2 linked regions of the Homo sapiens genome follow. The protein of the gene in region 2 purifies or fractionates together with the protein of the main gene of each other region. This does not show direct contact. Each region holds a gene or a part of one and is shown on either strand. Other genes may lie near its edges.

Region 1 (4,608 bases), on a different chromosome or scaffold from region 2:
GATTAGTAACTTAAATCACACAGTGCACTCATAACAACTCTAATCAATGCAAGGACTAAAAAGTTACTCGTTCTAGTTTACCTCCTTCATCCTCTTAATCTCACTCACCTCTGATTTAAACACTTAGGGAACATGCTAAAGGGATACATGATTGATTACTCAATCTGGAACCTAAGTTGTTATTATATACAATATATAGTGCTATTTTGTGTCCCAGGTACCAGTGTTCAACATTTCTGGGGCTTTGCTTGTAAATACATTTGACTGGAGATTTACCATTATAATGCTATTTATGCTACCAGCCCAGAGCCAGTCCCAGAGAAGTGGCCCAATTGAAGGCTTTCTTTCCAAACTTCAGTGCTCCTGGCTCCCAAATCCATTGCCCAACCCAGCATCTAGGATTCTAAAAATGATTGATGCTGATGTAGAATGGAATGTGTAGAACAAATAAAGGATAAAAGGTTCACAATGCAACTAGGCAATCCGATCTCAAAGCAGAGTGTATTCAATTTCTGAGTAACCTGAGTCAAAGCTATGGTAAAGTTAGAGTCTTACCATAGTGGTCTGTCCCCAAGATTGATAGAGATCAGTGTGTGCAGCCACTCTTAAAATCAGTACTCTTAGTCATCTTTAATATTCTGCCTCCCCTCAAAAAATGAATTTAGCACATCAAGGATCTTATGTATTAAAACAAACTACAGCAATCTCCAACTTTACAGTGGTTTGACTTACGATTTTATAACTCGATGGGGTGAAAGTGATATGCATTTAGTACATTCTTAACTTACTACGGGATTACATACAGAAACCCATCATAAATTAAAAATATCATAAATCAGGCTGGGCGCAGTGGCTCACTACCTGTAATCCCAGCACTTTGGGAGGCCAAGGCGGGCTATCACCTGAGGTCAGGAGTTGGTCAGGAAACAAGCCGGGCCAACATGTCGAAACCCCGTCTCTACTAAAAATAGAAAAATTAGCTGGGTGTGGTGGTATGTGCCTGTAGTCCCAGCTACTTGGGAGGCTGAGGCAGGGGAATTGCTTGAACCCAGGAGGCAGAGGTTGTAGCGAGCTGAGATCGTGCCACTGCACTCCAGCCTGGGTGACAGAGCGAGACTCCGCCTCAAAAAAAAAAAAATCATAAATCAAAAACATACAACTTAGGATGGATATATCAGGATGTAGCCCCATTGTAAGTCAAGGAGCATCTGTATATCCAGCAGGTAAGTTTTTTTAATCAGTGGGAAGCACACTCCAGAGAACAGCCACTAGCTGTATAGAGCTTGGCAGAGGTAAAGCCGTAACTGCTGGTTGAGAGTGTTGTCTGAATTTGACAAGCCACACTCATCGGACTCAAATAAAATTAAGAAATAGTTTTTGGAGATGAGGTCTTCAGGATAATTCTATCTGGATTAGGTACAGCTACTGGTCAGTCAGATTAGGATTCATCAGCCCATAAAAGGAGAAAATGAGGTTGGTTGAGGTGGCTCACTCCTATAATCCCAATACTTTGAGAGGCCACGGTGGGATGATCTTCAAGGCCAGGAGTTCTAGACCAGCCTGGGCAACAGAGCAAGACCCTATCTCTACCAAAAAAAAAAAGCCAGGCATGGTGGTGCACACCCTGTAGTCTCAGCTACTTGGAAAGCTGAGGTGGGAGGATCTTTTGAGCCCAGGAGTTCAAGGCTGCAGTGAGCTATGATTGATGCACCACACTCTAACTTGGGCTACAGAGGGAGACCTTGTCTCCAAAATGAAAAGAAGTATGGCTGCAGGCTACATTCAAACTAAGATCACAACGAAGTGTTGAGTATGTATAAATGTATGTGGATATGTTTGTGTCTAAGTGTATTTCCACTAGCATGCTAAGGTATGTTTGTGTGTGAGTATGTTTCCTCCAGTATGCTAAGTTTTGACACATGCAGGCATCTAACTTGGGTGTTATCTGTCCTTCCTTTGCCCAAAGCATAGATTATAATTGTTCATTCTCAAAAATGCAACTCTTATCTATTTCCCCTTTATTTGAAGGCAGCTGATGGTTACTCTGCAAGGTGTAAGTTTCTCTTTTAAAAACTAAGCGGTCGAGCATGGTGGCTCATGCTTGCAGTCCCAGCACGTGGGAGTCTGAGGCGGAAGAGTTGCTTGAGCCCAAGAGTTCAAGACCAGCCTAGGCAACAAAGTGAGACCCCATCTCACTTTGGAACTCAGGACTGCAGTAAGCCATGATCATACCACTGCACTTAATCCTGGGTGACAGAGTGAGACCTTGTCTCTTAAAAAAAAAAAAAAAGAGAGCATGTATATAGATGTTTTAAGGCCAAAGGCTGTGGAAGCCAGGAAGGAAATAGTAGATATGATCTATCACAATTCGGGGTGATAATTAGTTGCACAGTAGAGGACAAGTTTTGTTGGGGTGATGATTGCAAAGGTATTTGTATCCTGACTTGTTCTAAAAAATGTTTGTGGCAGTCTAGAGAACGCTGATATGAGCTGAGCTTCTTTATAAACTTACTGGCTGGCCATCATCTTTATTGACTTAGATTTTATTTAATAGAAGTAATAATGAGGCCAGGTGCCATGGCTCACGCCTATAATCCCAACACTTTGGGAGGCTGAAGCAGGTGGATCACCTGAGGTCAGGAGTTCAAGATCAGCCTGGGCAACATGGTGAAACCCCGTCTCTACTAAAAAACAAAAATTAGCTGGGTGTGGTGGGGCATGCCTGTAATTCCAGCTACTCGAGAGGCCAAGGCACGAGAATCACTTGAACCCAGGAGGTGGAGGTTGCAGTGAACTGAGATCACGCCATTGCACTCCAGCCTAGGTGAGCCTGGGTGACAGAGTGAGACTACATCTCAAAAAAAAAAAAAAAAAAGAAGTAATAATGAGTATAAAATAAAATAGAACTTTTCTGGTATTATTGAGTGAATCGGTATAGAGAATTACATAAAGCACTAGTTAGGCTTAAGTTTTAATTGTATCTACAACCAGTCCCCATCTACCGTTCCCCCAACACAATTACCCCAGAAATCAAACTCCCTAAGACAGCAACCAATATTTTGGCATTCAATACTCAGTAAACATTTGAAAAGAATGAACATATGGTTATATGATACTTTGGGGGTAACCTAACTGGAAAGAAAAATTATAGATAAGCAGGTGAAACTGATATTAATATGAGTATTCAAATATTCTATTTATTTGATCATTTTCTTTCAGCTAAAAAATTGCCAAAGAATGAACCACAAAATCCAGGAGCAAATTCTGCCAGAGGAAGAGGAGTAGACCTTACCGAACCCACACAACCAACCAGGAATCAGTGTTGTAGTAACTAAACCTCTAGTTTGAACTAGCTGGAATAGTCTTCTGCTTCCTAAATGTTAATAACAATGGAATTGGAGCATTTAACCAGCCCAGTATGACTTCCAAAAGAAGAGACTTATGATAGAGTCAAGTTTCTAATACAGAATTATTTTAAGTGTTTTGAACTTAATTTTTAATAACATGCATGGGTCCCTCTCACTAATGTTTCAACAATAGGGAAAAATGAGAACTATGTGGACACTTGTTTCATTGGAAGGTTAGGGGGAATAATTTCTCATCACTAGGAATATAGACAAATGACTGTCTGGGCCCACACAGTTAACCAGCCCATTTCTCCACACTGGTACAGTAGTCACCTGTGAAAAAAAAATTGGAACTTACTAATTTGGGCTTTTCAAAAACATTCTTTGTTTAGAAGGAGATTCTAAAGTTATTTATGATGCTTAGCCATAGTATTCAGGCAAATGTTCATTTCTCCTGGTACCTGTATTTAAAATGTACATTCCACATTTTAATAAATTAACCACAAGAAAATAATCCCACATATACAAGGTCAGGGGTGGGGAAGAGTATTAATGGTATCTTAATTATACCCAGTCTGGTTTTTTTTTTTTAAATGGGGTAAAAATCAAATGCAACCCCATCTTGTTTTAGGAATTTTGAGAACTAATAAATGCACCTTAATGGTCAGTGTTCCTTTCAAACATGTGAGTTCTTTAACAAAAATGAAATAAACCAGGTGTCTGTGATTTCTAATTAATCACCGCTGGCCATTACACAGGTTTTGTTGTTTGGGGTGGGGAGGGGGCTTTTGTTCCCTTTTGACATAATATAGTCAATGCACTAACAATTATGTATATTCAAACTTGATTATTTTAAATTCGATCTTCAGCTGTACTGTAAATAGGGTACTGCATTGTAGTCTCCATATCTGTATTACTTTTCTGTAATATTTAAGAGTTGCTTAAAAGCATACAAAATGTACTGTTACTAAAACAGCTAATTATTTCTCTCTCCCCCTTTGACAGGAAGGGGCTTCAGTTGTTCCTCCATGGCTAGAACCATAATAAACAATGTACCCGTAATTTGTAACATAAAGTATTGCAATATGTTAGTAACAATCTTGCAGCCTTCCTTTCCAAAGTTCATTTTATTTTGATCAGTTCAGTATATTGCACTAATTATTTTAGGTATTTTCATTATATGAAAGCTACCATGTGTCAGAGATGATTTAATCTATTTAAGTGTTGGACTGCTAGGAGAACTTGTACATTTATGATAATG
Region 2 (5,718 bases):
GAGCTGATGTCAGTAGCAAGAAAAGGGACAGGGTTAATCTGCCTGCAGGAACCATGAGCCTGCAGCAAAAGTCCACTGGGGCTTCAGCATGACTGGAATGTTCTTGGATGGACCATCTGGGTCCACATGACCAAGGCCAACCCAGCTAAGCACTGCCGATGGATTTGCTGAGGTGATTTCATCCTAGCTGAGTCTGGTCAAGCCCGCTGTCAAGAACATCAGCAAATCAACTCACTATGTTGGTGTGCATATGTTTTACCTTTTAACAAAGTGATGCTTTAATTAATGTTTTTACTCTGACCCCAGCTGTTTCTGTGTTAAAATATCTGTGGGTCTGGCACAATAGCACACTTGGCAAGAGGCAGGCAGCTTTCAGCGACTAAGGGCAATCAATGCTCAGCTGTTTGCTCTTGAAATGGCACAGTAAACAGGATGTCAAATAATGACACACCCGCTCTGGATTTCTGTCTGCCTTCCATCTCCACTCAAAAGAAACATGCTCCTGGCCAGGTGCGGTGGCTTACGCCTGTAATCCCAACACTTCAGAAGGCCAAAGCGGGTGGATCACCTGAAGTCAGGAGTTCAAGACTAGCCTGGCCAATACGGTGAAACCCCGCCTCTGATAAAAATACAAAACTTAGCCAGGCATGGTGGCAGGCACCTATAATCGCAGCTACTTGGGAGGCCAAGGCAGGAGAATCACTTGAACCCAGGAGGCAGAAGTTGCAGCGAGCTGAGATTATGCCACTGCACTCCACCTGGACAACAGAACGAGACCCGATCTCAAAAAAAAAAAAAAAAAAAAAATGCTCCACACTCTGTATAGTAACTTAGATCATAAAAAGCAGAAAACAGACTCCCATGGTCCAAACAAACGGAGCTGAAATAAAAAGAGCAGTTGTAGAGGCAGCAGCAGGGATGAAGTAAATAACTAGGGCTGGGATAGGAAAAGTCATGGTTTCTGCTCCTAAGCCTGCAAGAGACTCTGGCTTGCAAAATCTGGCAGCTAATAAGGTACTCAAGGGCCGCGTGACTGTTCTACACTAGAATTACTTGGTGCAAATGTTCAGACAGACATAGGGGAGCGTGCTGGAGGAAATCGCTGCAGTGAGGAATAAATATCATGATTTTTGACTTTCCCCTCCAGTCAGCCAGAAGGCGGCAGTTGGGGACCGACAGTAAAGCTCACAGCAACTCCACCCCGGCAGCCTCAGAGTTGCAGATGTCAGTGCAACATGGTTTTCTACTCAAACTAAAATTATAAGGAAGAAAAAAACAGCCACGCAACTTTGTTTTACACTAATGAGAGATTTTTCTTGGCAACAATAAAAAGGTCTCTCTTTCACTCACACACACACACACACACACACACACAGTCGACAGAAGATAAGAAACAAACCAATATCTTCAGGGGGCAGAATGTCCAGGATGCAGCGTCTTAGGTCTGAACTTCCTGCTAAGTGTGTAGTGTACAAGCTCCGCAGTGAAAGGAAATAGGCATCAGCGTGCACCAAAACATCACCACAGACAGATTGAGCAGATACATCCTGCCCTCTACTCTCAGTGCTAATACACAGGAAGTGGAAACTCATTTGGCTTTGAAAGTTAAATTAAAAGAGTAACAGGACTACTATACCAAGAGAGATAGATGGTACATCATGCTTCCATCTTTCAAGGAGAGGAAAAGAAACTTTCCTACTCGGCAAGCCAAGAACTGACTTCTAACAGAAAATTGCTAGACAACAGTTTTGCAGATGGCAGAACTATTCCAACAGATTTTGTTCCAATAGGGAACAGTACTAATTAATACAGGTGTGGTCGTGGTAGTGGTGGTAGTAGTAGCAGTGACTGACAGAGCAAGAACTCTATTTACTTTATGAAACCCTGAAACAAAAATATGGGGTGAAATGAGGGCATAAGCCATTGTTACTTCCTTCGTTTGTTCTGGCAACAGTGAGATCAGCCTGTGTAAAAATCAACCCAGGTTCACCATTTTTTAGGCCTTAGAAGGTTTTCACTCTGCTAAACAGGAAAATCAAATGTGATCTCATAGAATAGGAAAATCCCTACAACATACAAGTGAGAGAGAATAAGCTACATCCACAAGTCAAGGGCTAATGGGGTTTTCTTTCTGATCCAAAATTAATCCAGAGACTAAAGAGCAAGACCAAAATTATTACCATTCTTTCAGCTCATCATCCCATTTCCTGTTTGAGAATGAGCCATTCTAAGAGATAAGGACTGGCTCCATTGCTCACATTAGCATAAAGAAAAATGACCCGTCCTGAAAGCAAGAGTGGACCCCGGCTTCACTCACCTGCAGACACTGGACTTTCTGGACATGGTGGTGCTGGGGGAAGAGGGTGGCGTCTGATACGACCAGCTGTAATCAGAACCTTTCAAGTCCAGAATCACCTAAGGGGACAGAGCCAGCTGGGTGAATGAGGTGCTGAGAGGGGAAGCGTTAGCCATCAAAGCTTAACATCCACCAAAGCATCAAAACGCTGCCATCGTGGGGGTGGGAATGAAAGCAAAACATGTTAAAAAAATTTTTTTTAAATTGAAGAGCCACAGTACCAAATCCATCAATATCATAATCCTTTTACTGAGAAAGTAAAACTATAATTAATAGGGAGAAGGAAAGGAAGGGAAAAGGAAAATCATGAAATATCAGTCGAGAGAGGGAGAAATACAGTGACCAATTAATAATTTATAACAGCCATTTATACCCAAGGCTAGAATTTACAGGATTTTCCTCTTGTAATGCCATAAAGTTAATCATGGTTCCCAGACTTGTTGGTAGCGCATTTTAACCACTTGATATTCAGTGGTCATTTCTGCCCTATTTGACCAGCACTAGAAATTTTAAAGCCTGACAGAATCAAGAACAAGCCAATTCTTTCACCATTATTTCTATATCTGTCTCCGTTGCTTGACAAAGGACCACATGAGTATAAGGTCCACCTTTCATTCACATAAGAAGCACTCAGTAAATGTTTATTTGTCAAGTGAATGCATGCATGCTCTGGTCTAATAAATATAATTTGATAGAATAGAAAACATGAGCTCCCAAATTTGCCCTCTGAGCCAGCTCTCCAAGGAGACGAAAAGATTGTTACCAAGCACAAAAGCCAGCATGTGATTCATCAGTTCCCCCAAATATGTCTCTTCCCATAGTGTGCGTGTGATGTGAATTAAATGAATAAAGCATAAAAATGTCATCTTTTTCATAAGATGAGAGAGCTCTCCATGCATTGCTCAATTAGAATGGGAGAAATGGAGAATGGTTGACAGTGTCAATCAAAACACACCAGCGACGTGTTCTTAGGAGGGTTGACTTCTAGAGGGCAGATGAACACAGCAATTAAGTGCATGGGATCTGGAACCTGACCAACTTGGTTCAAATATCAGTTCCACTACCTGCTAGCTAGCTGAACCTGGCTAAGTGACTCCATCTCTCAGTGCCTCTGCATCATTCTCTATAAAACAAGCATAATCATGAAGATGAATGGAGGAAGTCAGGCTATGTAAAGAGCTTGGGACAGTGCCTGACACACAATAGGTTCTATGTAACAGCTCGCTGTGGTGATTTCATATATTACATCATGAAGGACGTGGTGAATATGACTACAATTTAAGACGTGACACATGCCACAGGAACACTCAGGGCCTTGAGCTTTTACCTCTTTGGTTTGATCCTGTAAGTGCTTAACCCCTGAAGCCTACCTGTTCACTTGAGGAGGGCAGTTTGTGAGGGTCCATGGTCAGGCTTTTTAGATCTTCCGAGATGGTCTGAAGGTGGGTTATTTCCCCTAGCATTGAGATTTCTTCTTCCTGAAGGAAAAGTCATTCATGAAATGTTATTATCATGAGTGATTCCCTTCATCGCTCTAGTCCAATTGTTTTCATTAGGGTCTCTGTATAACCCTTTCAGTTTTTCAGAAAAGGCACTGTTGGGACTGGCAAATCTTTGCTGAAGGCACTACATGCCTTTTCTTTTGGGAAATGAGATGGAAAAAGAAATCTGCCATAATGGAGGAGTGACCTGTGCACAGGGGACAGTGGGGAACACACAGGCCTCCCTCCCAGGGCCTGGGGGACTGCCAGGCCTGCTCAGATGGTCTGACTGTGTGTTCCCACGGGATCCTGCAGCACAGCCCTCTTCATACTGTGGCCCTTTTCTGAAGTTGCTTAGCTTCAATGGATGACACGACTTGGATATATTTTGGTCCAGATCTTTGTGACAGTGCCTGTGTGTTCAACAGAAGCTAACTTTTCCCCTTCTTTCTTGTGCTTTTCCAGCAACTTAGTAAAAGACAAGTAAGACAGGAGCTGGGGACCATGGAAGAAACATCCCATGTGCTTTATCGAAGTGCCAAGTTGGGACCACGGGCCGGGCTAGAACGATCCATGGAAAAGTTCTGTGCTCAGGGGAACAACTCAAATTCAGACATTTTGCTAGGGCTAAGGGAAATGAGCTGGTACCTTCGAATCAGCTTCCAGAACGCCTGCAGTGCAAGTTCTCAATTACGGCATGCAAATGATTTCCTTAAAAATTAAGTCTAAATTGATTCATTGAGGCTCTTGGATATTCATCTCATGGTCACCCCTTAGTACTCGGCTACAACAGTGAGTCTCAAAACCACCTGGAGTGCTCCTTTAAAACACAGACGACTGGGTCCCCACCCCCAGAGGTTTGGACTTGGTGGGTCTGGGTTGGGCCCAAGAACTTGCATTTCTAGCCAGTTCCCACGTGATGCTGCTGACCTGGGGACCTCACTTTGAGAACCACCCTGCTGGGCCTTCTTGACTTGGTGAGACAAAGTAACGGGGAACAAGTGGTACTAGAACAGTGAATGAGGAGTGAGCTACATGGCCATCAACTTGCACTGAATCGCTGGTCTGTACAGGAGATACCACCATCATGATTCCTGACAGTAGATTCTCCATGACTCAACAGTGGATGGATAAAATTAGAAGGAAGCCACCTCTACACCAGCAGTTTAAACCTTCTGGAGTTTTCCATTAACTTACAATCACTGGCCGCAGCATAGAGATGAAGGTACAGAATCGGCCACGTTCTTCAATCAAAGCCTTCCGGACAGCCTGCTTTTCTGTTTCTTCCAATAAGAGATACTTATCATTGACATCTTGGAGAGCACTGTCCAACTGAGGCTGGATATCACCTCTCCCTGCAAAAAACAGAGACCCAAGCACGGCTTGCTGAAATACCAGCTTCTGGAACAAGTGCCCCTCCTCCCTGGGGTCCTTGCTGGAGTCAAAACCACAATTTTCCAGGATGTAAAAAAAGTATTTATTCATGCCCCAAAAGGATTTAAGGCAGCTGTTTTTCTAGGACCAGCCATTTCCAATTTTCAATGCCCAAAGGGCACATTTAGCCTGGCTTATTCCTGACAAGGAAAATGTCCTGGGGCAACTCTTCATGACTTGCCTTCTCACACTGCACAACCCCCACCAACTCTTCTGCCAACACAACCCTGGAACACAGAGCCAGACAGCATTCTTTCCTTGCAGAACATTCTGAAGAGGCTAAGAGATGTGGAAACAAGGTAAGAGCCTGTGGGTGTTTCCAAAAACGGGCACGGGCTGGCTTTGTTGGGTCAATCTCAATCAAAGAGCCTCTGTCTGGATAGAAGGATCTGCTCCTAAAGACAAAGGTGGCAAGCATCCGCTCTCCTGGCTCTGGGGGCCCATGGG

The links. Proteins that work in one complex are often made in the same cells at the same time.
Region 1: the proteins of MTSS1 (region 2) and RAB5A purify together in Homo sapiens (affinity purification with western blotting, with the first as the bait; 2 studies listed by BioGRID). This does not show direct contact.

Annotation. Positions count from the first base shown.
Region 1 is NC_000003.12:19,980,489-19,985,096, forward strand, and holds part of RAB5A (ras-related protein Rab-5A), read left to right. Parts: intron 1-3,219; coding exon 3,220-3,335; 3' UTR 3,336-4,608. UniProt on the Homo sapiens protein: The small GTPases Rab are key regulators of intracellular membrane trafficking, from the formation of transport vesicles to their fusion with membranes.
Region 2 is NC_000008.11:124,563,345-124,569,062, forward strand, and holds part of MTSS1 (protein MTSS 1), read right to left. Parts: intron 5,571-5,718; exon of another isoform or gene 5,539-5,570; intron 5,193-5,538; coding exon 5,035-5,192; intron 3,835-5,034; coding exon 3,727-3,834; intron 2,416-3,726; coding exon 2,318-2,415; intron 1-2,317. UniProt on the Homo sapiens protein: May be related to cancer progression or tumor metastasis in a variety of organ sites, most likely through an interaction with the actin cytoskeleton.